Homo sapiens: one gene and its partners. The protein of the gene in region 1 purifies or fractionates together with the protein of each later gene. This does not show direct contact. Each region holds a gene or a part of one and is shown on either strand. Other genes may lie near its edges. The genes, in order: NFX1, PABPC4, HDLBP and LARP1.

Evidence for each region.
Region 2: the proteins of NFX1 (region 1) and PABPC4 purify together in Homo sapiens (affinity purification with mass spectrometry, with the first as the bait; 2 studies listed by BioGRID). This does not show direct contact.
Region 3: the proteins of NFX1 (region 1) and HDLBP purify together in Homo sapiens (affinity purification with mass spectrometry; 2 studies listed by BioGRID). This does not show direct contact.
Region 4: the proteins of NFX1 (region 1) and LARP1 purify together in Homo sapiens (affinity purification with mass spectrometry, with the first as the bait; 3 studies listed by BioGRID). This does not show direct contact.

What each region holds. Positions count from the first base shown.
Region 1 is NC_000009.12:33,300,504-33,307,529, forward strand, and holds part of NFX1 (transcriptional repressor NF-X1), read left to right. Parts: intron 1-759; coding exon 760-918; intron 919-2,687; coding exon 2,688-2,765; intron 2,766-6,690; coding exon 6,691-6,796; intron 6,797-7,026. UniProt on the Homo sapiens protein: Binds to the X-box motif of MHC class II genes and represses their expression. May play an important role in regulating the duration of an inflammatory response by limiting the period in which MHC class II molecules are induced by interferon-gamma.
Region 2 is NC_000001.11:39,560,313-39,566,813, forward strand, and holds the end of PABPC4 (polyadenylate-binding protein 4), read right to left. Parts: intron 5,067-6,501; coding exon 4,794-5,066; exon of another isoform or gene 4,758-4,793; intron 4,462-4,757; coding exon 4,374-4,461; intron 4,231-4,373; coding exon 4,111-4,230; intron 3,611-4,110; coding exon 3,524-3,610; intron 3,430-3,523; coding exon 3,302-3,429; intron 2,105-3,301; coding exon 2,011-2,104; intron 1,892-2,010; coding exon 1,761-1,891; intron 1,476-1,760; coding exon 1,386-1,475; 3' UTR 1,373-1,385; intron 811-1,372; 3' UTR 504-810; downstream 1-503.
Region 3 is NC_000002.12:241,235,664-241,242,689, forward strand, and holds part of HDLBP (vigilin), read right to left. Parts: intron 7,016-7,026; coding exon 6,797-7,015; intron 4,646-6,796; exon of another isoform or gene 4,460-4,645; coding exon 4,238-4,459; exon of another isoform or gene 4,158-4,237; coding exon 3,939-4,157; exon of another isoform or gene 3,839-3,938; coding exon of another isoform or gene 3,728-3,838; intron 3,125-3,727; coding exon 2,986-3,124; intron 1,107-2,985; coding exon 952-1,106; intron 1-951. UniProt on the Homo sapiens protein: Appears to play a role in cell sterol metabolism. It may function to protect cells from over-accumulation of cholesterol.
Region 4 is NC_000005.10:154,800,354-154,807,379, reverse strand, and holds part of LARP1 (la-related protein 1), read right to left. Parts: intron 5,374-7,026; coding exon 4,981-5,373; intron 4,091-4,980; coding exon 3,967-4,090; intron 3,841-3,966; coding exon 3,635-3,840; intron 3,180-3,634; coding exon 3,073-3,179; intron 1,500-3,072; coding exon 1,348-1,499; intron 1-1,347. UniProt on the Homo sapiens protein: RNA-binding protein that regulates the translation of specific target mRNA species downstream of the mTORC1 complex, in function of growth signals and nutrient availability.

The DNA of each region.
Region 1 (7,026 bases):
GTATGTACTCAAAAAAGCATATACACACACTCACACTCAGTTTTGAGAGTATCTGGCTGTATTGAAATCTAGAAAGACTTTGCTGCAATTGTGTTTGAGGAAAAAAATCTGGAAGTGGGTGAAGGTATTCAGGAATAGATCTGGGAGGATTATTCTGATACTACACACTGGTCTGTGTCACTGGACTTTGAGCTCCTGGAGCCAGGGACTGTAACACCACCATGGGGCTTATGGTAGGCACCAAGAATATCTTTGTTAAGTGAATGACTAAAGACTTTGAGGGCAACGGCTAGAGCCATCTCACCACTCATGGGTTGTTGGAACCTGCCCAGACTTGGGCTTCTTATAGCTGACACTACAGCTTCACGAGCCTCTTTCTAACCTAAATCCATGGATCTGATAGATTTAGAGGATCCTGGAAAATAGAAAATGCAAAGCAAGATCCTGTATTGCCCAGTGGATCCTCAGGCTATGTTACAAGGGGCATTTGGCTACTCTGCTGTTTTCCTGGGAATGTTTCCTTAATTGTGGGAATCCCCACCTGAGTGTCTCCTTCCTAAATCCTCTTCCTCAGCAAATTCCTGCCCCTTTTTGGCCTCAGTCTGAATAGCCAGCTGCCTTACCCAGAATCAGATATCCCTTAAAATCTCTGTGTTTGGATTCTTCTCTTGAGTGACTTGCTGATCCTTGGTTGATTAAAGTGAGGAATGGTTTTTTGTGTTTGAGTTAATCTTTTTTGTTATTTTGTTTTTTAAACAGGTTCTCTAATTGAACAACTAACAACAGAAAAATACGAGTGCATGGTGTGCTGTGAATTGGTTCGTGTCACGGCCCCAGTGTGGAGTTGTCAGAGCTGTTACCATGTGTTTCATTTGAACTGCATAAAGAAATGGGCAAGGTCTCCAGCATCTCAAGCAGGTCAATTAATTCTCTCTTCTGAGTAGTTATTCTCCCCTATTTGATACGTTTAAGTATTATTAAGCCCAGCTTTAAAAATACAGTTTAATTTCTCTTAACTACTTTTTCTGCAGGGAGAGTATGTTACCTTGATCATGTGTTTCATATGACCAGAATTAAGTTATAGATCTTAAATAAACCAGCTAAACAACAATATTAAAATATATTTTAAGATACGACAAAATCAGTCACTCTTATTGAAAATGATGGCTTTTACTTATTATTTTTTCTTTGACCTACTGATTTTATTTCCTGTGGATACATAAACAGAAGTGTGATTGCAGGATCATATGGTAATTCTATTTTTAATTTATCTTCTTCTCATTTTTGGCCAGGCATGATGGCTCACGCCTGTAATCCCAGCGCTTTGGGAGGCCAAGGCAGGCGGATCATCTGAAGTCAGAAGTTCAAGATTAGCCTGGCCAACATGGCAAAACTCCATCTCTACTAAAGATATAAAAATTAGCCAGGCGTGGTGGCGGGCACCTGTAATCCCAGCTACTCGGGAGGCTGAGGCACAAGAATTGCTTGAATCCAGGAGGTGGAGATTGCAGTGATCTGAGATTGCACCACTGCCCTCCAGCCTGGGTGACAGAGCAAGACCCTGTCTCAAACAAACAAAAAAACATTTTTTTTTCATTTTTAAATTTTTACTATGCATACGTAATAGTTTACATGTTTATGGGGTACACATGATATTTTGATACAAGCGTACAATGTGTAATGATCAAATCAGGGTAATTGGCATATGGGGATTCCAACACCTCAAATATTTATCATTTCTTTGTGTTAGGAGCATCCCATTTCTACTCTTCTAGTTATTTTGAAATATATAATAAATTGTTGTTAGCCATAGTGCTACTAAACACTAGATCTTATTCCTTCTATCTAACTGTATTTTTTTTTTTTTTTTTTTTTTGAGACAGAGTCTTACTCTGTTACCCAGGCTGGAGTCCAGTGGTGTGATCATGTCTCACTGCAGCCTTGAATTCCTGGACTCAAATGATCCTCCTGCCTCAGACTCCCAAGCAGCTGAGACTACAGGCACATGCCACCACATCCAGCTAATTTTTTTTTTTTTTGAGACGGTCTGCTGTGTTGCCCAGTCTTGTCTTGAACTCCCAGGCTCAAGCAATTCTGCATCAGCCTCCTAAAATGCTGGGATTAGACACATGAGCCACCATGCCTAGCTAGTGGTTTTTTTTTGTTTGTTTTTGTTTTTTTTTTGAGAGGGAGTCTCACTCTGTTGCCCAGGCTGGAGTGCAGTGGCACGATCTCGGCTCACTGCAGCCTCCACCTCCCAGGTTCAAGTGATTCTTCTGCCTCAGCCTCCTGAGTAGCTGGGATTACAGGCGCGCACCACCACGCCCAGCTAATTTTTGCATTTTTAGTAGAGATGATGTTTCATCATGTTAGCCAGGGTGGTCTCAATCTCCTGACCTTGTGATCCACCCACCTCTGCTTCACAAAGCGCTGGGATTATAGGCATGAGCCACCACACCTGGCCTTTTTTTTTTTTTTTTTTTAATGAACCCCATATTTAGTGGAAAATGCTGTATTCAAGCTAAGCAGTCAGTATTGTGAATTTGTTCCTTAAATGTCTGATATGCTTAACATTGAAATTATTACCACTACTTCAATATTGTGTCTTCCTATAGATTTAAATTTTTTTAATTACATGTAGCTTTTGGAAGAAAATTTATTTGGCCTACTCCCATTTTTCCTGACAGATGGCCAGAGTGGTTGGAGGTGCCCTGCCTGTCAGAATGTTTCTGCACATGTTCCTAATACCTACACTTGTTTCTGTGGTAAGTTTGTTTATATACACTGGAGTCTCTTTTACTACATACATTGTACCTCAGTTCAGGAAAGGTGGTCTGCGGGGCATGTTTTAGAAGTTACTAATGAGACTTCAAAGCTCTAGGAGTCTATAAGACTGTAATTATGTGGTCCATCACACAGCTAGAGCCACAGCCTTTGTGCTCCTGGCAAGCTGTTCTGGAGATGGCCAACCAGGCTCATGCTGCTTCTGGGCTGTAGTGCTTGTCTCCTTGGTCTTGAGACCAGGCCTGACCATGTAGCAGAGATAGGTGTGGACGTGGGCTTCATCTCACCCCCAGCAGTTACAGCTTTGATAGTCCAGATTTGAGCAGTATGAGTAAATAATAGTGTTTATTTTAATCCTGGAAATAAGTCATTGGTATTTATAATCAGATTTTTTATAAACCAGCATTATAAACTCTATCCTGGCATCTTCCCTCTTTATGGAATACTTCTTTCTGTTTTTGAATATCTCAGTTCCCCCAAGTATTAGGGGAAAACTTCTTGTAACCCAGATGCTCATTCTTGCTGCTAGCCCATTTCTGCATGTTTTTTTTCCTTTCCTGCCTTTTAATGACTAACTTCCCTCTAGTTGTTGATTTTTCAGATTTTGTTTCTTTACTGTCTGTCTCCCTCCCTGAAGCATTGCATTTTTGCTTCTGTCTTGTTGCCTCACTGAAACCGTATTCAGAAATTACCAATGGGCCGGGCTTAGTGGCTCACGCCTGTAATCCCAGCACTTTGGGAGGCCAAGGTAGGTGGATCACCTGAGATCAGGAGTTCGACACCAGCCTGGCCAACATGGTGAAACCCCGTCTCTACTAAAATAAGTTAGCTGGGCATAGTGTTGCATGTCTGTAATCCCAGCTACTTGGGAGGCTGAGGCAGGAGAATCGCTTGAACCTGGGAGGCAGAGGTTGCAATGATCCAAGATCATGCCATTGCACTCCAGCCTGGGCGACAGAGTGAGACTCCATCTCAAAAAAATAAATAAATAAAATAAAAACAAAGAAATCACCAATGACTCCTTTCCAGCCATATCTAGGGCTGATTTTATAAGCTCATAATCTTTTTGGTAGAGTGATAGCCCTTGACACCTTTGACCATTCCCTTCTTGAAATAAGTAGCTCTTCCTGTTTGTTTCTGCATGCTCTCCTTATTTTTCTAACCAATTTGCTCATATTTCTCCTTTCCCATTACTTAGCTAGCAGCTTTCACAAAGAGTCAAGTCATTTACCATCAACTCTGAATCTTCTAGATGCAATACCTTGGTGAACTCTTTGACTTCCCCTTCTTTTCTTTCAATTCTTAACCACAGTATCATTTAAGATCTGACCCCAAACACCCTCTTACAAAGGAAGCTTTCCTTTGTTATTCTCTGTCTCACTTTGGCCTCTGTTTTATTTGGAATTTTCCGGTCTTACATGTTTTATTGACAGAATCTCAGCCTTAATAGATACTAAATTGGTATTAGATGAGGGAATAAATATTCTTGAATATACTACCAGAAAGGCAGCATGAAACTGGAAGTAAGAGATCAGTGGAAATTTGGGCAAATAGGACAATACCAATACTTAATACCTTATTTTGAAGGATTACATAAAGTACCACAATGGAATTAAAAATCTTGTTAAAGCCTCTACTGGCAAATTAGATGAGAGACTCTAAGGCAGTATAAGAATGTGGAGTGAAGGTCAAGATGATCTGAAAGTGGTAAAATGATGTGAGAATGCACATAAAGGCCTTATTTGCAGATGACTTTGCCCCACACTGTTCTTCCAGGGGACCATTAATTTAACATGTTTTTATTGAGAACTTATTAATGTTCAAGGCACTGTGAAGAAACAGAGGCGAATAAAACGGTTAACTTACCAGAGCTTACAGTCTAAGAGTTAAAACACAATTAGCCTGATACTCTGCTAGAAGTACAAAGTACTATGGGAGATCTTTGGGGTAGTTACGACTTACAGCTGGATGATTAAGAGAAGCCTTCTTGGAGGAGGTAGAATTGAACTGGCATTGTAAACTAGGTAAAATCTTTGTAGGCAGAAAGATATGTTGAAGGGAATAGCATAGGCAGTTCAAAATCAACAGGGTTTAGGGTATATTGGGAGAAGAGTGATTCATCCACTTACAGAGCCCAGGATCTATGATGGTAGGGGAGTGGGAGATGACTGGAAAGGAAGGGCTGACCCTTTGATACCAGTCTCAGATGTTGGGACTTCATTTGGAAGGCTGTGGGAAGCCACTGAGGGCATCAACATGATTCTTTATGGAGATTAGTTTGGTAGCAGTGAGTAGAGTATTTTGGAGCCTAAATAATTTGGGACTTATAATCCAGATGAAGAGTAGTACAAGCCTCTAAGGAGTGTGATAGAAAAATATGGTGTTAGGTTGATTCCTGACAGTAGTAGGAATGGGAGTCACCCAAAGTTTCATGCTTTTGGAAATGGTGATACCAAGGAAAAGGGCAGGTCAAAAGAAGAAGGTCTGGTGGGGACAGTGACTACAGTTTAGAAATGTTGAGCTGGAGGAGTGAGCAGAACATACAGTGAAATATGTCCAACAGGCAGGTAGCAATATTTGAGGAAAGACCAGGACTTAAGGATGAGAATCACAGCTGAGAGGAGTAGTTAAGACCCTAGCGGATGAAAGGGTACAGAGTGAGAAAAGGGTGTAATGCAGAACACTTGCAGGGGAAAGAAAAGCAAAAAACCCCAAAACATCATTTGGAGTCAGGGACAAAAGGTAGAGCTCTTGAGAGATGTTAGAGGAAAACCAGGGCACTGTATTGGAGCAAAAAAGCACAGAGGCAGGGAGGCTTTTGTGATAGTCTGGAGATGAGGTTTTGGCCAGTTAGAGAGGCAGGAACAGGAGAGCGATGAGGTGAGAGCCACTTTGTAGGAAAAATTGACACAACTTGGTGATTAAGTAGAAAGAGGTGTCAGAGATGACTGTAGTTTTTGAGCGTGTGTGACTCTGACAGAGTTGACGTCACTGACAGAAATAGGAAACCCTGAAAAGGGAGGAGTTATAGAGGGAAGATGTGAACTTTGACTGTGGATAAAGCCAGTTTGAGGTGACTGTGAAACCCCAAGCAAGAATGTTCAGCAGACATTTGGACATATGGGTCTGAAACTGAAGATTCAGGGCAAGAGAGAAAATGTGGATTTGGGGATCAATGGCCTTTAGGTGGATTGCACCTCTCAACATGAATAAAATTTCTGAAAGAGATAGTATAGAGAGAAAAGCAGAGGCCATGGACTGGGGATGGCTGCAATTTAGTGTGCAAATTGCCCAAGTGAGGATGAATTCCTCAAGGGCAAGGAGGAATCCTGTGCCTTCGTTTTACTCTTCCCTGTCTCTGCTGAGTCCATGGAAGATGTGCCATGAAGATTTGCAGTGACATTGATTATAAAAGTATAAGGTCTTTTATGCCGACTTTATAGTTCTGGAATAGGTGAGTTCCTGCTACTCGGGATTTATGTCCTTTCCATTTCTTACTGCCTCCCCCCTTTCCCCACGGTGCTCTTCTCTTATTCCCTCTCTCTGATCCTTCCAGCAGCAATTCGCATATCAGTTCAGAAGTCCAGTTATAGACGACTTGTCTTATAGGTATTTATCTTAAATTAAACGTTTCCATTAGTCAAGATAGTATTTTCGTAAGTAAAAGTGACTTTTTATTTATCTTTCCCAGGTAATCCAAGATTTAAGATTTATCATACTCAGTGAAACTTTTTATGAATAGCATTATATTTATCTTTTTATTTTAAGATATGGGATAATACATTTGTTGAAATAATAAAAACCACACTAAAGTTGCATGCTGCCTAGCTATACTTTACTGTTTCATTAAAGTTGAGAATGTGGTTGAAGTTTGTACCATTGACTCTCTGATCTGATATGTTCTAGGCAAGGTAAAGAATCCTGAGTGGAGCAGAAATGAAATTCCACATAGCTGTGGTGAGGTTTGTAGAAAGAAACAGCCTGGCCAGGACTGCCCACATTCCTGTAACCTGTAAGTTGGAATGCTAATTCCGTTGGGATTGCTGGTGGACATGCTTTGCTGGTGGCTCTAAGTAAACATACCTGGTTAGCATGTAATGGTTTGGGATGAAGGGTGATATGGGACCTCAGTAAATGGTCTCAAATCACCCTGTGCCAGGCACTCTACATCAGTTAACTTGTTGAATCCTTACCACAGCCCAGTAATAGATATTTACCATCTCTGCTTTACAGATGAGGCTC
Region 2 (6,501 bases), on another chromosome or scaffold:
ACCATTTGCTATAGTCACAGACCTCCCATTTTCCCTGCTAGGGGAAAACTTGGTTGCAGAATCTGGGGAACTGGATCCGCTGACTCGAATGCAGCATAAACTGACTGCAGGAAATAAGAGGGGACAGGACACACCCCAACCGAGTTCAGGAAGGGAAGGACGGGGCTCAACTAACCAACTGGGATCTGCAGATCTCACCGTATGTCCTTGGGGTGTGCGCCAACCCCACTCTGCCCCAGATTTTCCTGGGCCAGACCCATGGTCTGCTCTGACCACATCAGATCTCTGTTCCCTCTAAGTTAAATGGGGCTAATGTAACAATCATACTGTAACAGAACAGTGTGGGACAGGATCATATTTAACAGTTCTGTGTATCTTGCTAATCTTTGTCAGCTTCAAGTCAAGAAAGAATAAACTATCACTGGAACCAATTCACATCCTAAAGTTACTTCCAGTGAAAACCGGAATTCATAGAGTAAAACTGTGGTCAGAGACAGAGGCAGTTTTATGGAGATTTTTTTTCTTTATTGGGAAACGTAAGACTTGGGTACATCAAATAAAACCAATTTCTGGGGGAAAAAATCAAAACCCACAATAAAAAAAAAGTTAACACTGTCTGGGCCACAGCAGAACCCAAAGAACATATTCGTATAATTGAAAAATTCTAGGTGCTTCATAATTGACCTTTTGATACAAAATGACCTATTAAATTTGCAATTTGTAATCCTTGGTGTTGAGGTCCATAGGACAAGCTAGGAAGTCTTCAAACCTTGAGTTGAATTCCATAAGGGGTTATTTGGCTTTTGAATCCTGTAAAGAAAAGCACCAACACAAATAAATGCATAATCAAATAATTTAGATTCATTAACATATAGTGGATAAAGGAAGGTATTCTAGAAGAGAGTTTCTCAACCTCAGTGCTATTGACACTTTGGACATTCTGTTGGGTCTGTCCTCCTGTGTACTGTACAACATTTAGCAGCATCTCTGGTCTTTACCACTAGATGACAAGGCTCCTGAGGCCCTTGACAAGAGGGTCATGACTATGCCAAGTCAACCCTCCCAACACACCAGCTCTGGTCCTTACCATGTGCTTTTTCCTTAGCTTATTTTACTGTCTCTTCTTTCCCTATCTGGAGACACCTACAACCATCAACCAGTACTAGTTTTATTATTCACTCAAGCTCCTGCAGACAAAGTCCACAGTCCTCATGATAAGAAGTCACCTGCAACACACTCCGTGTAACTAACTGTACTTATTGTATTCCCAGAGCTAAGCAGTGAGCATATATACAACCTCAGGTCAAACCACAAAGACAATGCTCATAGGAACAATGCTCATAGGAACAAAAATGAAAATAGCCACACATACGGTTTTTCCTTGTCTAAGAGGTAGCAGCAGCAACAGCGCCCACCTTCTGGGCAGCTTCTTTCTTGGCATGATGAGCCTGTAGAACTGCTACAGCTTCATCCACCTGCGAGAAATCTTCAGGTGGTCAGTGAATCTAGGAGAGCTACTCCACCCCTCCCCAGTGCCCAGACCTAGTGGTGGACCAAAGCCAACTGTACAGATGATCCCTAGGCTTCTGGTGCTAACTACTTTCCCAAATACCCACTGCAGCCTCCAGTCACAGTCAAGGCATGACGAGAGGGGTCCTGGGGGCAGCAGATCCCACTTTCTGCTGCACCTGGGCATCCAAGTTTGCCCCCAGTCTTCCCAAGCTGAGAACTGAAGCTGCAGGGTCTGAGCCCCAGCTCACCTTGGAGCGGAGAGACTCGGGGGACTCTAACATGTGCAGCAGCTCAGAGTTGTCTATCTCCAGCAGCATTCCCGTGATCTTCCCAGCCAGATTTGAATGCATTGTTTGGATGAGTGGGAACAAGCGTTCTCCTATGGGGAGGATAGTTAATAAAAAAACAAATCAAATCCCAGTAAACAATGGACACTGGTGTCCTAGCTGGCATCAGGCTCTGGGACCCTCTTCTTCTGCAAGCAAGTGGGTCACTCACCCAGCATCTGCTTCTGTTCCTGGGGGGGTGCTGCAGCCAGCATGGAGGCAGTCAGTGGCTCCTGCCCCTGCACATGGACCGCAGGCTGGGGTGCCTGGGAACCAGGAAAGGCAGTGGGTTAGCACTGAGGAAAGGACAACACCTGATGGTGGTTGAGTGCCTGTTCAATATCTGAACATCTGACTATGTGAAAGAGGAGAGGAGGTGGCTGTCCTTGCTCTAAAGGAACTAATTTCAGTCCTTGAAGGATTGAGGGGTGTGTTGAGGAACAGAGTGGTATGGACATAAACACAACCAATTACAATGAAAATGGCATGCTATCAGAAAGCGAAGTGAAACGTAAATAATAAAACAAACCTATAGTGCTAGGCAAGCATTTTCTGACATTTCCTTAATACACCCAAAGTTACTCAAGAATGAAAAGCCTTGATATAAATAAGGGTAAACACTTGTATATAACCTTTTCCTGAAAATTAGTTTTCCTTTAGGGTAAATCTCAGTGCAGATTGGATCAAAGGGAGTAAATATCAACACATTTATAATTACATTCCACATCACCTTAATTCTACCAAATGTTTTTGTATCAAATGCTTAAAAACGGTCAACATGCAACGTCAATGCTAGTCAAAGCCTTGCAAAGAAAAGGTATTTTACATAGCATCAAGTTCTAGGAAATCCCCAACTTAGAGAGTATGAGACAGGACAGTTAAAGAGTAATCTCCTAAGCAGCTTATGGGCCTGAAGGCTTAGGGTGACACCTCCACAGCAAATTGCTATTAGGCTCTGAAACAAACTAGTTGCATCTAGAGCACAGGTCTAGAGACAGCAAGTTACAGCTTAGAAAATCTAAGCTCTAGGTTCAACCCCTTCACCTCCTACACACACTTTACATCTTTGAAGCTGAACATCCGATCTGTAAGTTGAAGTTATTTCCTGCATTAATGTACCAATCATCTTGCAGAGCAGCCAAGGATCCAATAGGTCATTGGATGCGGAAGTGACCTGGAGGCTCAAACAGCTGAATGAGCACATTATTTCGTACAAACAGAAGAGGAAGCACTGGCTGCCCGCTCTGAGGCATTTCTGAGTGAACTGGCATCAGGCAGAGCACTTTTAAGCCCCTTCTTTCCCACTAGTGAGCCCCTGAAGGGCAGGGACAGTGAATCAGAACATAGCGTCATAACACAGAGCAGGCATTTAATACCTGTTGAAGGAATCAAAAGCACAGCTTCTTTTACATCAAGTGGAAATGGGGGAAATCCTTTTAAGCATTCTGTCTGGTGAACCTCACCTGCAGAGGCTGTATGGCAGGATGAGGGCTGCGGACACTGGAGGCGTATTTGTAGGGGGCAACAGCCCGGGGAGCAGCAGCAGCAACAGCAGCGCGTGGCGCTAAGTTCTGCACAGCTGTGGGAACGCCTTAGGGAAAGAACAAATACAATTAAAGCCCATCAGTCTGGGCAAAGACCCGTCAAATCCCATCTTTCCCCCTTCTGTGTGCATCCAATACCACCTCCAGACTGGCAGCTGTCAGTCAGCCCTTGCTGGGCGGCACCAGCCCCACCAAAGTCCATAGCCAAGCGGTCCGGGCACTCAGACCCTACAACAGACCAGCAAATGCACATCAGTGTTGGCGGCAGATGTCCAACTGGCCACGTCCCACGGAAGGAGAAATTTCAAAGCACGTTTACGCAACACATTGCACAGGGGGCCACTACTACTTTCGAGGATGAGCCAAAGGATAACATACAACTCTTTCCACATCTTGGAATACAAGACATATTCTGTATACACTGTTTCCTTGTATTCCTCACCCCACCCAAAAGAACAAGCTGCCTCTGTGGTCATCCAGCTAGCAAACTTCTACAACTAACCTTTTTCACATAGGTCACCGATGAGCAAAGAATGTTAAAAGCAACTGACACACCTAGAACTCATACTGTTTCTCTGCTCCTGAAGTGGCCACCTAAGCACACAGCTAAGATTACAGAACCAGGACTCGATAAATTCGAGCCCAACAAACTGACCAACCCAGGACAGAGCCTAGTCATCCTGACTCCCTCCTCCCCAGGCCACACTTCTAAAGGCCAGTTTGCTCACCGACTCTCTGAGTGGTAGTAGGGAGGCCACGAGAGGCCGGAGCATTACCAGTTGGAGCCAGATGGCGAAGAGTTGGACGAGGCCCAGACTGGCGTATAGCACTTGGCATTCCTTGGAAGCCTGGTGAAGAGAAAAATTGCACATCATTGAGAAGTGATGTGGACCAGAACCTAGGCTGTGCCTCAGAGTGGGGAAGAAGGAAAGGCAGGGGAGACCAGGACAGGTATATCCTGGGCTGTCAATTACTGTTCCCCACCACCTACCTTGAGGTCTCCCACCTTGCTGCCAGCGTGGATTAGGCCTCATCTGTGCTAACTGGTTAGGTGTATAATATGGAGGCCTTCCCTGAGCCTGTAAGACAGAAGAATACCCAAACACCCCCTTAAGGACTGAACCCATCCTAGAGAAGTATCTCATCTCATCTCACTAACCAGGACCTAAGCTAATTATTTAAATGTTCTTTCTATTCAAGAGCTGAGGGGTCAGCTAATGGGGACTGTTTTATGCTACCACTGCCACTGTGGGTGTGTGTTTGTGACCATGGGTAAGTCCTTCATTTTTACTTGAAGGGTCCTTATTGTGACATTCTAGAACTCTAATAACGAAAAATCCCTCTCCCCAACCACTGCAGAATACTGCCAGCCGGCAGGTTCCCAAGAGCTGTGACCAAACAGCACACCCACCTGTGGGACTGCTGGCACAAAGTAGCCACCCGCTGCAGGCTGGAACTGATTTAAGATGGCATTGGCAGGAAGTGCTCTCATTCCAGCCACTCGTTGCATATACTGGTTGGTCAGGTGAGCCTTTCTCTCTTCCTTCCTCTGGGCCAGGGCAACATATAGTGGCTTGGAGCCCACAATGCGTCCATTCATCTCAGTGACTGCTTTGGTTGCTTCTTCAGGAGATGAGAAGCAGACGAAGCCAAACCCTTTGCTTCTTCCATCCTCCAGCATTACCTACAAAATGAGACCAGCTACTTAAGAAATAAGGTGTCCCTGGCTGGGTGTGATGGCTTGTGCCTGTAATCCCAGCACTTTGGAAGGCTGAGGTGGGAGGGCTGCTTGAGCTCAGGAGGTTGAGACCAGCTTGAGCAATGTAGTGAGACCTCATCTCAAAAAAACAAAGGGCCAGGCGCAGTGGCTCATGCCTGTAATCCCAGCACTTTGGGAGGCCGAGGTGGGTGGATCACGAGGTCAGGAATTCAAGACCATCCTGACCAACATGGTGCAACCCCGTCTCTACTAAAAATACAAAAATCAGCTGGGCGTGGTGGCACACACCTGTAATCCTAGCTACTCAGGAGGCTGAGGCAGGAGAACCGCTTCAACCCGGGAGACAGAGATTGCAGTGAGCCGAGATCGCGCCACTGCACTCCAGCCTGGGCGACAGAGCGAGACTCCATCTCCAAAACAAAACAAAACAAAACAAAACAAAACAAAACAAAAACACCAACCAACCAAACCAACAAAAAAAACAAAACAAACCTACAAATAGGAAAAAAAAGGATGTCCCTGGGTGGGGAGGGAACTATTCAGAAGAACCAGAAAGCCTGGGTTCTGCTGCAGTCACTGAGTCTAGGTCAGGGTTCTGGCACAGGATTTACCCCAGACCAACTAAGTCACAACCTCTAAGGTATCTAGGTGTTTTCTTTGAGTCCCCAGGTGATGCTAAAGTTCTGAAACACTATGATATGGCTAATAATAAAACCAGGAACTCAAAGATGTTTCCTGATACCTGGTGGATAGCTACTCCGGGTAACCACAAAACATCTTGAGAGTAGTACTGAGCAATTTATTTTCATATCTCATATGCTTCAAGACCTCGGTGGACAAACTCTAACAAGCTCTTACCAACGTCAGGATAACACTTTTGGAATACCACGTGTGGACAGGAGTCCTAAAATGTTCAGGTAACCAATGACTGCCACCATTAATTCAATGAGATGACCAGCTCAGAGATAGGCAGCCTAGATTCTAGTCTCACTTGCCTTCCTGAGGCTCAATTTCCAAGAAATACTCCAAACAGCTACAAAACCACAGGTCTACTGGTTCAGGCAGTCTTTTCCCACATTAAGTTCATCATTCACAAATGGCATTCTTCCTAATAGACAAGGTTATTCACTGTCTTCTCTGGTGTGACTGTCATTGTTTTATGTCTTAGTTAATGGCCCAGAGAGCCTCCTGAAGTGGAGGATAGGGAAGTAAAGAAGTGCATCACTCCATAACTCTCTACCAATGAGATGGGCCAGTAAGGTATGTGAATAAAAATGCCACACCATCATAATGAAAATGGGGACAATTCAAGGTATGGCTCTTCTGCTCTCTTAACAAATGCCAACTTGACTACTAGGCAGATAAGCAAGGATAGAAGATCACTCCTTACACTGATGAG
Region 3 (7,026 bases), on another chromosome or scaffold:
GGGCTCCACGAAACACAAGGCAAACAGCCCTATGACAACAGCAATGTGCCCCACCCGACAATGCCACCAGGACCTTTAACTCAATAGAAAAGAATAGGAAAAGATTTGCATTAGGCTAATGCTGGCAGACAGAAATTCCAGACCCTTCATCCCAAGCCTACCCTCCTGAATTACAGCAGCCCCTTCAGGCCCACGTAGGAGGAGAGGCCCTGACTCCTGGCACATCCTCGGGGTCATGACGGCTTTGACCGATGCCCATGAGGTGCCACAAGGGACTCTCGGACCACTACTCACCTTCCCTGCCCTGTCCCTTGGGATCAGGACGGCTTTGGCTAATGCCCACGAGGTGCCACAAGGGACTCTCAGACCGCTGCTCACCTTCCCTGCCCTGTCTCCCCCACCGCCCTTCACCTCCAGAACCTGCTTTCTTGCCACAGCATTTACCATCACTTGCCACAGGATATATCTGCGTTGACTGCTTGTCTCTCCACGGCAACGTGAGAACTATTTTTGTGTGCTGTGGCACCGCAGCACTGAGAGCAGCATCCAGTACGCAGGTGGCACTCGACACTGACTGCACACAAGGTGAGCTAGGCCTGATAACCCCACTCACGCGGGGGGAGACGTTGCAACTGGAGGTCACATTCATCCCCCTGCAGCTGAGACCCTTCCACAGCCCCCGCACCCACCGTGGGCCTGAGAGGCCGGATCCCATGCAGCTGTCCCAGAAAGGGGCTATAGAACCCCGAGCCTTGGTGAAGGGAAGTGGCCTCCCCAAACTCTGTGTCCAGCCGAGAAGCACAGCCCGTGCGCACACGGTAGGAGCAAGAGGGCTACCTCCACTGCCACTGCCGCTTGGGCAACCGTCCATCCCATCCAGGCCACGCGTCTCCCCAGGTGCCTGCTGACTGGGCCTTGGCGGGGGGTGGAGGGGGGCACATGGACACATACCTCCAGAGCTTCCTTGGCAGCCTCACACTTTTCTTTCCGGCCAGAGATGATGATGATGTCACACCTCCTTGGAGAGCCGGGGTCACAATCTTTAGCCTCTCTCCCCTCCCCAGCTTCGTCCCCATTCTCCTGGACAACTGGCTCTGTACTGTGAACTAGAGAGAAAGGGGAAAAGGGACAGCTGACAGCTGCTGGAAGAGACCCCACACCTTGTTCAGAATGCATATGTCTGTGAGGCACCTGCTGGGTGCTGGGTGGTAAAAGGGAGGGAAAACCACTCCTGTCCTTCAGGAGGTCTTGGTCTGGTCAGGGAGAGCAGATAGGACGTCCCCACAGCAGCCTCAAAGAGGGCTCCCAGACCTTGGGGGGGGGGGGGGGGGCGGCAATGAAGGCTTTGCCGGGAGGCCGTGAGCTCTGTGTCTCCCTTCTTCACCTTGAAGATGAAGCTAACAGCAACTAACTACAGCAGAGGCTTCAGTGAGATCAGATGAGTTAGTTCATGGGAGGAACACAGGGCAGACCCACTGCACAAGTGAGGCTTGACTGTGAGGCAGGGCTCATCAGGGAAGGCGGCCAGCACGCAGCCCCACCCAGGAGAGGCAGTGGGAAGGGGGGTGAGAGGTCTAGGGGAGACAGAAAGGGCAAGGCCAAGGTAAACCTGTGCCAGCTCCTTATGCCAGAAAGCGAGAGCCCCAGAAGTGAAGAGGCGTGTGAACAGGACACAGAAGACAGCTGGAGGGGCTCCTACAGGCCACACTGGGACACCGCGTGTGTACCAAAATAGACACCACAACAATAAGTGTCACAAAACAGACACAACAATAATTATCACTAAGACAGAACCCAGGAGGTGTGTGATGTAAATAAATGAGCAGGAGACCAGACAGACGCCTGCCTGAAATCAAGGGTGATCCTAGGATGGGGAAGTAGGTGTTTCTGAAGGAGAAAAACTGGCAAATTTGAATACCGACAACATATTAGATACTACTGTTATATAATGTTAAATCCGATTCCGATAAATGTGCTAGAATTATGTAAGAGAATGTCCTTGTTCTAAGAAAATACCCACCATGAATAAAGGGACATGTCTAAAAATGACATTCAGAAAAAAAACGTGTGTAAAAGGGGAGAAGTTGAGAAAAGAAACTGGTGCCACAGGATGTGTCTTTATACTATTCTGTGAAATTCTATCAAAATCAAAGTTTTAAATAACCACTGAAGTGTAAAACATAGACAGAGTGCAGTATGAGTTTATTAGTTTCCTACTCAAAACACCCTGTATTCTCAGGAAAACAAAGGGGCTTGAATGGCTGTGTGTGACATGCTTCCTGGATGCCCAGAGAGATGACACTATGTGCACTCAGCAGGCTGCAGGGCCACCTGCCGCCCAAACAGCTCAACCAAGACTGATAACACAGAGTGGAGGGCGGGCATCTGATAACACAGAGTGGAGGGCATACCTTTTGTTTCACAAATGCAGAGCAAGTGAGAGAGAGGCAACCGACCCGCATCCCACAGGTCGCCTCCCCACCACCAGGTGCATGAGCAGAGCTGGGGGCAAGCATGGTACGGGGAACTGAATGCTCTCCTAGAACTGCCGGCCACTTGGATGGTGCCCTCTGGCCAGCCAGAGGCTGCAGCTGCCTGCCTCACAGGGGACACCCCACAGTGATGGGAGATGTGGAGGAGGAAGCTCTACGACGGGGCTCATGCGATCCAAACGATGTCATGAGAATCACTGGGACTGAACTCGGGACACCCGAGGATGAGGCTGCACGCTCCTCATCGCCTTGGGACTGGCTACCTTGTGTGTCTCTAGGACCTATGAAGGTCACCTGGTCACTCTGTCAGTAACTGACGTGGTCCATCTTTTAAAGGCCAGGGAGTGACCCTGAACCTCTGGAAGCCCCCAGAATACATAGATGGTTTTCCAGCAGAGACAGGAAAGAGCCTCACCAGTATGTGCGACAGCCCCGCCTCTCACATGGGAGGCGCCACTATTAACAAGCAGAGCAGGGCTAATGGGGGACCCACCTGCGTTCTCCTCTCTGTCTGGGAATTTAATTTGAACACTGAAATCCCGAGTAATCTGCTGGATTCTGGAACCTTTGGGGCCCATGACAGATCGATGGAATTTCTGGGGTATAGCACATTCTAATGTCACCTGAGCTTCCTGGAGGGAGGTACACAAAGAAAAAAGAAAAGAGCAAAGATTAAATTCCTTAGGGCAAGTTTTACAGCACTCTTCACACCACCTTCCTCCCTGTCCTCTACAGCCACTTGGCACAGATGCTCCCCTTCTCCCGAGTCCAGGGCTCCAGGCGCAGGGAGGAGGGAGGTAGCAGGACAGGTCTAAGGGGGTGGGCCTCCTCTGAAATGTGTCCCAGAAGGCCAGGTGCCATCCCTGGAGGGTGGCCAATTCAGCCAAAGGAGTGGGACCTCCTGGGGTAGCCTCTGACTCCATGAGGAGGCATCAGACTTGATTATTAGGGAAAGGGAATCCAAGGCCCTGGCAGGGGAGTGGCCTGGAGGGGACACTCTCTAAAGACTGCTTCTAAAGACCACGTCTTCTCATGACTTCCCATGGATTCACGTGGATGCCCTCAAATCGATTTTCTTTCCTTCACAGAGGGGAGAAGAGAGCTGACCCCTTAGACTGCATTTTCATTTTTCCTGATCCCTTATACAGAATGCATTTTCTTTCTTTCTCTTGCTTTCTTTCCTCTCTCTCTCTCCCCTCTCCTCTTCTCCTTCTCTCTCTCTTTTTTTTTTTAAGTGCTTCTCGCAGGCAGAATTCTCACCAACTATCAGGAAGGAGGCCAGACAGGCTGAGGAAAGAAGAGCGAGCACCAGAAAGCCCCTTCTGAAGCCTTCCAGGGCTGTATGAGGGAGTCACCTCCCTACAGGGTGGAGCGAACACTCATACACGGCTTCGGTGAGTGGCCACTGGGGGGTGAGAACCCCTCCCCGAGCACCCAAGTGCCTACCAGGTCCTCAATGATCTCCTGAATGCGTTTCTTGGCTGCCTCCACACAGTCCTTGGCGCCCTTGAGGGTGACTTTGTCGCTCTGTGTGCCAGAGCGTGGGAAGCTGACCATCACCCCGCCATACTCTTCAGCAATCTCCCGCAAGACCTGGCCTCTGCGGATGACGAAGTGGCGGTGGTGCTTGGGGTCCACCAGCATGGAGTCTTCCACCACATTATCCTGCAGTGTTAAGAAGAGATGGAAGATAAGCCACCCCATCACGGCCCCAGCAGAGTCGGCCGCCGAGGCCCGCTCCCTACCAGGTTTTGGATCAAGGCCTCCAGCTCCTTCTGTGCCTCTCGGACGGCGTCCTCCTTTCCAATGATGGTGATCAGGTCCTGGTCCTTGTCCTCAGCCGCAGGGAAGATGACACGTGCTCCAGTGCTGTCGCGCACCTTGCGAATTTTGCCGCCCCCCTTGCCGATGAGGAATTTGTGGTATTCTGGCTTGGCGCGGATGTCAACAGTGAAACTCTTGGTTTGCTGCAGAAACCAATCCCACTGTGTTAGCCTGACACCACGTGCCTGGACCACAGTGAGGAAGACAAGAGGGTCTGTAGGACAGCAAGCTCGGGCTCCCCTTACATTGTCACCAGTGTCCTGATGTTGCACCAATACCCCCAAAATGGGGCTAGCACACCTCACTGAATAAACAGATGAATACCCAGACTGCACACCTACTTCTCTTCCACAACAACCAGATGCTGGTGGGATGAACACACAGGCTTAGAACCCTGGTCCTGCCACTTACAAGCACTGACCAAACTTCTCCAAGCCATTTTTGATCTGCACAGGGGGAGGTGGGAGCAACGCGCCGGACGATATGTTGGCGGAGTGCACGTCCTGGGGAGCGTGGGGTGTGCCCAGCAGAGCAGGAAGCAAGCTGCCCAAGAGGTGTGCACCATGCTCCCACTCTTCTACCTGCTTCCAGACCAAGCACACACAAATCTGGGCCAGGCTCCCTTTCTTCCCACGAGTGCTACAGATCAGCCTCCACAAAACCAGCCACTCCCCAGGCTCAAGCTCAAGCTCAGAGGGACACAAGCCAACCAAGGCTACAGTTAGAGACCGGTCCTCAGAGGCCTCGTGTAGTGCGACGCCCTTGTGTGGCAGTAAGAAAACGAGGGTCCTGGAAAGGCCCCGGACACTGCTTGTGGACACCAGTGCTTCTGGCAGACCCACGCAGGGGCCCCGAGAAGGGCGCTGCTCCACGGGACTCAGGTCCACACGGGGAGCTCTTGCCTTTCTCCGGACCCAAGATCTGGCCCGCAAGCAAAAATACCAAAGAAAAACATGCTAGCACAAAAATATTAAATAACAACTTTGCTACCTTTTAAGTGCAGGTTTCACCAAATACCACCTAGAGACTCTGCTACTTTTCAAAGACATCCACAAATAGCAGCATTAGTCAAACATTAGGCAATCAATTAGGCAAATGCAATCTAGCAATATGGCCAAAGACAACCTACCAAACCAAGCAGGGATTACCCCAGAAACGCAAGGCTGGTTAAACACAAAGACAAAAACATCAATCTAATAACAACAACAAAAAAGACAAGAAATACAAGGCTCCAGATTAGAGAGAAATGTAACTGTCCACAGACCACGTGATTGTGACATATAAAATAAGGATCCACAAAACAGTGGGCCGGGCGCAGTGGCTCACGCCTGTAATCCCAGCACTTTGGGAGGCCGAGGCGGGCGGATCACGAGGTCAGGAGATCGAGACCATCCTAGCTAACACTGTGAAACCCCATCTCTACTAAAAATACAAAAAATTAGCTGGGTGAGGTGTCGGGCGCCTGTGGTCCCAGCTACTCGGGAGGCTGAGGCAGGAGAATGGCGTGAACCCAGGAGGCGGAGCTTGCAGTGAGGCGAGATTGCGCCACTACACTCCAGCCTGGGCGACAGAGCAAGACTCCGTCTCAAAAAAAAAAAAAAAAAAAAAAAAAAAAAAAAAAAAATCCACAAAACAGTGACTGGCGCTAATATACATGAGCTTTATTTAGCAGCCTCGTGAAGGTCAACATACAAAAACCACAGGCACTTCCATGTGCTAACAACTGGAAATGGAAAAAAAGTGCCATTTACAATAGCACTAAAAGAGTAACAGTAGTTAGATCTGTTAAGTCGAACATAAAAATGTGCTAAAAATTATAAAACACCAATAAAGAATCACAGACCTAAAAAAAATGGAGAAATGCCTGCAAAAGTCAAAACTGCTGAGCTGTCAATCCTCGCCAGTCTCATCTTCAAATTTCACACAATCCCAATCAAAACGTGAAAGTGCTTTTTTCCTACAAATTGACAGGCTGATCAGCAAGGGGTGTAGAACAGCCAAAGTTAAGAGGGCTCACACTACTGATTTCCAGACTTCCCATAAACCTGGTGTCACCAGAAGAGCCCGGAAACATACCCACAGATGGGTTTTGACACAAGGACAACAGCAATTCCATGGGCAATCTTTAGGGGTGATGGAAAATGAATTTTGATGATTGTGGTCACATGACTGCATGTTACTTAAAACTCAACTATACCTGAAGAATGGCCAATTTTACTGTAAATCATATTTAAAAAACAAAAGCACCCCAAAACTAATAAGCCAAAGACCAACTTTTATATATTGCATATGTGAGCGTTTGGACCTGGAAAGGCCCTCCAGTAACAGCAAAAACAAAGACGCATAAACAGTACATTATAGAGCTGTTTTCTGACCCGCCACAAAGGAAGGGCATTCAGGGGTTTCCACAGTGAGAAGCGAGAACACTGTACTGAGGACCAGGCTTCCTGCCAAGAGTCACGCTCCCTCCCCATGCTCACCTTCTCCTCCGCCAGATGCAGGAGCTGCTTCTTGGCCTTCTCCACATCCGAGGAAGGGCCCCTGATAACAACGGTGTCGCTTCCTGAACCTTCCACGGGAAAGTGAATGTGGACCCCGCCGCACTCCTCCATGATGGAGCGGATCAGACGGCCCTTGGTGCCAATGAGGGAGTTGTGCAGCTTGGCAGGGATGGAGACCTCTACCTCGGCTATGTTGGCCTGAAACCAAA
Region 4 (7,026 bases), on another chromosome or scaffold:
TGGTTACCCCATGACCCAGCAATACTACTCTTCTAACCAAAATAAAGGAGAAACTACGTCTACAGGAAACCTGTATGTGAATATGCCCAGTAGCATCATTCACAATAGACAAAAAGTAGAAACAACCCAAATGCCAATCAACTGATGAATGGATACACAAAATGTGATACATCCATACGATGGAATATGATTTGGCAATAAAAAGAATAAAGTACTGATGCATGCTATGACATGAACCTTGCTGTGTATTTGTTAGTATACCAAATATACTAAGGGGAAGAGGCCAGTAACAAAGGACCACATACAGTATAATTTATGTGAAATGTCCAGAATAGGCAAAATCCTTAGAGGCAGAAAGTAGGTTAGTAGTTTCATAGGGCTGGGAGGATTCTGGGGGTGGGGAGTAGTTTGCATGTATAATGAGTATGACTGGTAAGGGGCATAGCATTTTGGGGGTAATGAAAATGTTCTAAAATTGATTCTGGTGATGGGCACACAACTATATGAGTACACTTAGAGCTATTACATTGTATTCTTTAGGTATGTTCCATCATATGTAGATTATATCCCAATAAAGCTGTTATTACACATAGAGTAAGAAAGAGAGAAGTGAAGTGGATGAATCAAGAATTTAGCAACCACGTTTTGTTGAATGAAAGAGGATGAATGAGTTAATAACTACAGGTGACTAGATTGGTTTTGCGCGTCTTTACAGCCAACCTATCAGAATACTAAAAGAGCAGGGACAGACAAGAGCATCTAGACAGGCTCGTTCCTTACACTATCATCTAGAGAGGGGATCAGCAAACTACTTTTGTAAAGGGACAGAGAACAAATATTTCAGGCTTTACAGAAGACATATAGTCTCTGTCACAAATCTTTTTTTCTTACAACCCCTTAAAAATGTAAAAACTGTCCTTAGCTCCAAAGCCATACGAAAACAGAATACTGGCTGGATTTGACTCACAGGCCAGTTTGGCAACCTTTGTTCTAGAGAGCATATGTCACCTCTTACATACCCTTTTGTGATGGACAGTGGACTAGACCTGACAATGGCTGAGTCAGTAATCTTGCCAGAGATATGGAAATACTTAATTGACAGCTTTAATAATCAATAGAGGAAGATCAAAGAACACGAACGTTGTGAGTGCCATATCCCCCTAGCTTCCTACAGTTTAAAACTACCTGGCCCGAGTCTAACTTCAGTCTTTCTTGCTATAATGTCATGTCTTTTTTTTGCTCTGAAGTCAGAGAAAAGAGTCACCTATCCCCGTATCCCCCAACTCTTATACTCTGGGTCTAAATAACGGGCCCAGAGGCTCATCTCCTGCCCCCCACACTTCTTACCATTAAGGCAGCGCCTACGATACTTATGGTAGACGTGTTGTGTGAAGCCATTTTCCTTGAGCAGTTCATGGGAAGGATGCTGGAACTTGGGCAATGACTGAGGGGTACAGCCATAGCTGCCAACTGTAGGCGTCCCTTCTGAGGGGCTGGAGCTACAGAAACCACAAAAAATACTGTCACCAGGTTCCCCACAGCAGCCCCACCATGTCAGGAGGGGTCCCTCTGATCCGTTCTGTCAGCCAAGATCCATCCTCTCACAGGGTATCAAACAAGGAGGCCCAGTTACGGACCTTTAACTTATATCCATGGGTCTGATTAACTCTGCATCAACTCTCAGAGAGTTTTACAGAGGATACTGAGGCTTACAGAGATTAGGAGACTCATCCAGGGTCATAAGACTATTTAATGGCAGAAACGTGTCCAATGATAAAACTTGAGCTTTTAACCATTTATTAACTTTAAGCATTTAACCTTTTAATGAGCCATCATGGGTCAATCCATCTACAGTGAACCCTTGAACAACATGGGTTTGAAATGCATGGATCCACGCGTGGGTCCACTTATACGCAGATTTCTTCCACCTTTGCCACTCTTGAGACAGCAAGACCAACCCCTCCTTCTCAGCCTGCTCAATGTGAAGACCATGAGGATGAGGACCTTTATGATGATTCCCCTTTGCCACTCGAGAGAGCAAGACCAACCCCTCCTTCTCAGCCTGCTAAACATGAAGACCACGACGATGAAGACCTTTATGATGATTCTACTTCCACTTACTGAACAGTAAATATTTTCTCTTATGATTTTAACTTTTATTTTAGGTTCAGAGGTATGTGTACAGGTTTGTTAAGTAGGTAAACTGTACCTCACTCTCCTCCCTCTCCCCACCAAGTAGGCCCCAGTGTTTGTTGTTCCCTTCTTTGTGATTTTCTTAGTAATATTTTTTATTTAGCTTATTGTAAGAATACAGTATGTAATACATATAATATGCAAAACATGTGCTAATTGACTATATGTTATTGGTAAGGCTTCTGGTTAACAGTAGGCTTTTGGAGAGTCAAAAGTTATACACGGATTTTCAACTGTGTGCAGCTGGGCACCCCACGCCCTTCGTTGTTCAAAGATCAATTGTATATTTTCTTCAAAAGCATGCCTATTTGCAGTCTGTGCCATCTCTGCAGGGAGTAGAGAGCATTGGTCATAGGTAGGTGGCTCTCAAAGCTTGCTTTGGGAAACAGGAAACACACACTGGGGCCATCTTACTGAAATAAATAAAAAAGAGTGTGGGCCCTACCCCAAGAAGCAGGGTCAGCAGATACAGGTTGGGGCCAATAAATATGTATTTTTTTAATTTTTAAAACTTTTCAAGTAGCCTCCCAAGACATAGTAGGCTCAGAGAGACTGCCAGAAATCTGTTTATTCAACTACCTGGCTATTCTTCCTCAGACAGAAAGTAGATAGCCAGGCTTGGAAACCAATTCAGAGATTTTCTCTCTGCATGTATGAAAATCTGGTCTCACGTGACTGCCACACCACTTCTTTAGGAAAAAAGCCTACCCGTCATTCCCAGGTCCTGGGCTGAGCTTTCCACACCACTGGTTTTTTGAAAACCTCTTAGATGAGGGTCCCTTTAATTTTCAGACCAATCTTCTTGGTCCAGTCAATTTCATGGCTCGCCCACCCATCCCATAGGCAGCCTGATCACTCTTCCCCCACTGCCCCAGGTACCTGATGGAAGCAGTACGGGGCCTGTGCTCACGGGAATCCATCACCCAGCCCACATGGCTCTCCAAGGGTGGGTTTGAACTGTGTCTTGTCTTTCTTTTTCGAGGCATCTGCAAAGGTTAGCCCAGGGTTTGTTACTGTTTGTACTCCTACAACTCTGAGGAGCATCAAGCACTTGTAGGACTAAGATGGGCATGATCTCTCACATTTTACAACAGCATTTTCATATTCATTCTCGTATAAAGTTCACAGTGGTGAGCTAGGAACTGGTATGCCTATTTCAAACAGGTGAAGAAATCAAGGTTTGGGAATGCAGTGATTTGCCCAAGGACTCATACCTGGTCAATCCTCCTTAGGCCTTTCAACATGGGGTTACCACTCCCACACCCAGTATATTTTGCAGATGTGGCTACCTAATCCTAGGTAAGCCCACCAGCCTCAGAACACAGAGCAGGTGAAGGATTTAGCACTTCCTTAGCTCAGACAAGGCAAGGGAGAGAAGCAAAGCACTGGAATGCAATGAAGTAGACCCAAGACTCTGAGCAGCCCGACAGGAATGCCTCACCTTGGCATCCAGTGTCCGTCCTTCTTTCACCACTGGGTAAAACCGTGATGTCTGGCTTGAGTCTTTGAGCTGTGGTGTCCGGGGAGTGCGAGGGGTCCTGGTGTTGCGGTAGTTTGGTGACTCTGGGACAGTGGTTGGTAGAGAGCGGGCGATGGTGGAGGGCTCAGGAGCACCAAACAACTTGTTGGCCAGGGCATCCGTAGGAACTGCAGAGGCAGAGAGAGGAGTCAGGAAGCAGGGAAAGGCCTGTGGCATCCACCCCAGGATAGCCCCCAGTCCAAGGGCCCTAGATCCTCTCACCCATGTCAGGATCTCAGGTGTCTGCTTCTCACCTTGCTGGAACCGAGGTGGCCCAGGAGGAACTTCCTGGTTGGGATCCACAGGGGGCTCAGGGGTCAGTGTGTCAAACTGCTCCCGGCTGATCATATTGACCTTTTTGAAGTTCTCGACTTCTTGCTGCAGAGGTCATGAGATGAGTGGGGAAAGATGTAAGTAAGCAGGCTGCTCTAGCCTGTTTAAGGAATCAAGACTGGCAGGAAGTTGGAGAGGGCAGCTCCCACGTCGACATACGTGGAATTCTGGTCCCCAGGCTCTCAGCTGCCCAGTCACCATTCCTCACCCCAGTTACCTTGGCACAAGTGTGCTAGCCCAGAAGAAGACAGTGCTTGCCCTGCCCTCCCTGTAGTAAGACTGAGATCAGGCTGACAGTAGCTCCTCAGGAACTCACTACACACTCCCCCCTGAAAGCTCCAGTGTTTCCCCATCTCTCTTTCTGCTACTGCCTTATCACACAGTGGCTGGGCAACTCTCCTTCCTCCTTACTTCCAGGAAACACACTGCTACTTATTACAAAGGCTCACCCTAGGACAACCTACCACCAAACATACCCACTCTAAAATCCCACAACAGAGATGTTTTGACTATTTCCAGGCAGCAGCAATTTTTCAAAAGACTTATCTTTTCTCCATTTTCCATACTCAACACAAGCTTCTTAAAAGGCTTCTAAATTTTTAGATGCCTAAATATTTAAGACTAGAAATAACAATCTAACCCTTTTTCTGTTCCCCACAAAAGTGTCTAGCCAACTGTCAGAATATTAACTATGGATCCGCAGATAGGATAATAATCACCACCGCCTCACCTGAAGAGTTTGCAGTGTTTACACATCACCCCTCACTCCTAATGCCCAAGCTAGATGTCAGTCATCATCCCCTTCCCATATATAAAAATCCTGAGACTCTGAATTATAAGGACCTGCCTAAAATTGCACAGCTAATCAGGCTTCCTCTTCTCCGTACAATACAGGCACACCAGGCTCCACACTCACTGCTATGTCCAAGCCTCACCTTGATCTGGGAATACTCAGGTTCAAACTTTTCAGCCCACAGGTCCTGCTCATAGTAGAAGAGGCCATCATTAATGACCTTGGCCAGTTCGGCGCTCATCTTGGCACGCGAGGTGTGGTTGCCTGTGCGGTCCCCCCCTGGGTGCCGGCGCATGTAATGTGGTGTCTGGGTGACAATGAGGATCTTGTTGACATCCCTGTCATCAATCTCATAGTCAGATTCCTCATCAGACCAGGCAGTGAAGGTGTTCTTCCGCCCATCCATCTGCTCCATCTCCTCGTCAAACAGAAAATCCAGTTCCTCTTGCTCATCCTGATCCTTGGACATCAGCTGCTGGGAAGGCAGCTGCTGAGGCAGAGAGGTCAGGTGGGAAAATCTGGACTCCTCTGACTTCTAAAATAGGACAGACGAAGGGGAAAAGGAATCACCAGAGATCCTTGGCCCAGATTCTGTAGCTATACCATGAGAGGGAAGCTCCAGCCTCTCAACATAAGACTGTTCAACTATGACCCTGGTAACACCAGCAGGTCACAAGCGTCATCCTGGGAGTCAGCTTTATGACTATGAGAAAGGATGTTTCATAGAAGTCCAGGTTCCTCCACTCACAGCTCATATCACAGTCATGCACAAACAACTGATGATGACTTCTCTATAGGCAGGAACTGTGCTCTCATTTACCTTTATATCCTACATAGCACCTAGCTTAGGAGTGGACACACAGAAGTTCAGCAGGTTGATTCATCCACTTATCCATCTATTCAACATCTCCCAATAAACTGGAAGCTCCATGATCCACAGCTGCCTTGCTTTCCATTATATACTCAGTACCTAGACGGGGATCTGGTAATACCAGATGTTCAATTATATAATAAATGAGGGAGTACCCATTAGTCCTAAGCTCTGTATGAAAAACCTAAAAGCAGAATAAGACAAGGTCCCTGTTACTTAGGGAGCTCAATGGGAGAAAGTCAACCAAACAGCCAACTGCATTGTGGTATGGTAAAGGCTATAAGCAGGTTTGTGGATGCACACAGTTAAAGGAGCTTAGTCAACTGTGACTAAGAATGGTTACGGAAGGCCTCCTTCAAGAAGTGACTACCACAGGATGAACATAAGTAAGCCAGATGAAGATAGGGACAGACTAGGCAGAAAGAATACCATTGTTCCAAAGGCAAGAGAAAACACGGTGCCTTCAGCAAAGAAAAACTATTTGTTTTGATAGACTGAATATGAGACGCTGAGAGAGAAGCATTTGTCTAAACCCACAGTATTTATTCAAAAGTAGATTCCCTGCTGTGCCAAGAGCACATAAACTCTAAACCTATCTTTTTTTAAGGTTTAAGATAGACCAGGTCAGAGTAGGGGCTCTAATTCTGGAATGGGAGCTAAGTCTGACCCCTGTTTCAAACAAAACTTTGTAGGCCTGGACTTTGTAAAACCCTCATCTACTTACTACCTTTCTCCTCATGTCTCTGGCTGGATCTCCAACACTTTTTGAGGGCTGAAGCCACAACTGTGGGGAATTCTGTGTATGAACAGGCAGGCAAGAGAAAGGAGATGAGAGGTAATCACTGTGGGAAAATAGATAAGGGAGTATAGAATTCCATAGACCCAAAGTTCAAGGTCAATTCTGCAGTCTCCTCACAAGCCCCAGGCCAGAGGTCTCCAAAGTGGGTGACAGTGAGCAGGTATGTGGAGAAAAATTCAGCACTTAAAAAGGAAGTAGTAATTTTAGTTAGAGATTGCAATACTTCTTTAACAGTGAACTTCATCTGTTTATATATATAAACTATTTCTAGAATATTCTAATGTCTCCTTCCTTTCATCTGCAGATGGAGAAACTGAAGCCTTGAGGTATGAACAGGCTTCCCAAGGTCACCTTGCCATTAGTGCAGCAGACTTGTGTAGACTAACTCCATATTTGGGCCATGCATCTGCTCCCTCTCCCTTCCTTCTTCTGAGGACCTAAGGGGCTTACATACATGATAGTGGGGACATACTCAGGGAAAAGACACCAAAAACGCAGCCCCAGAAATTTAGATGGAG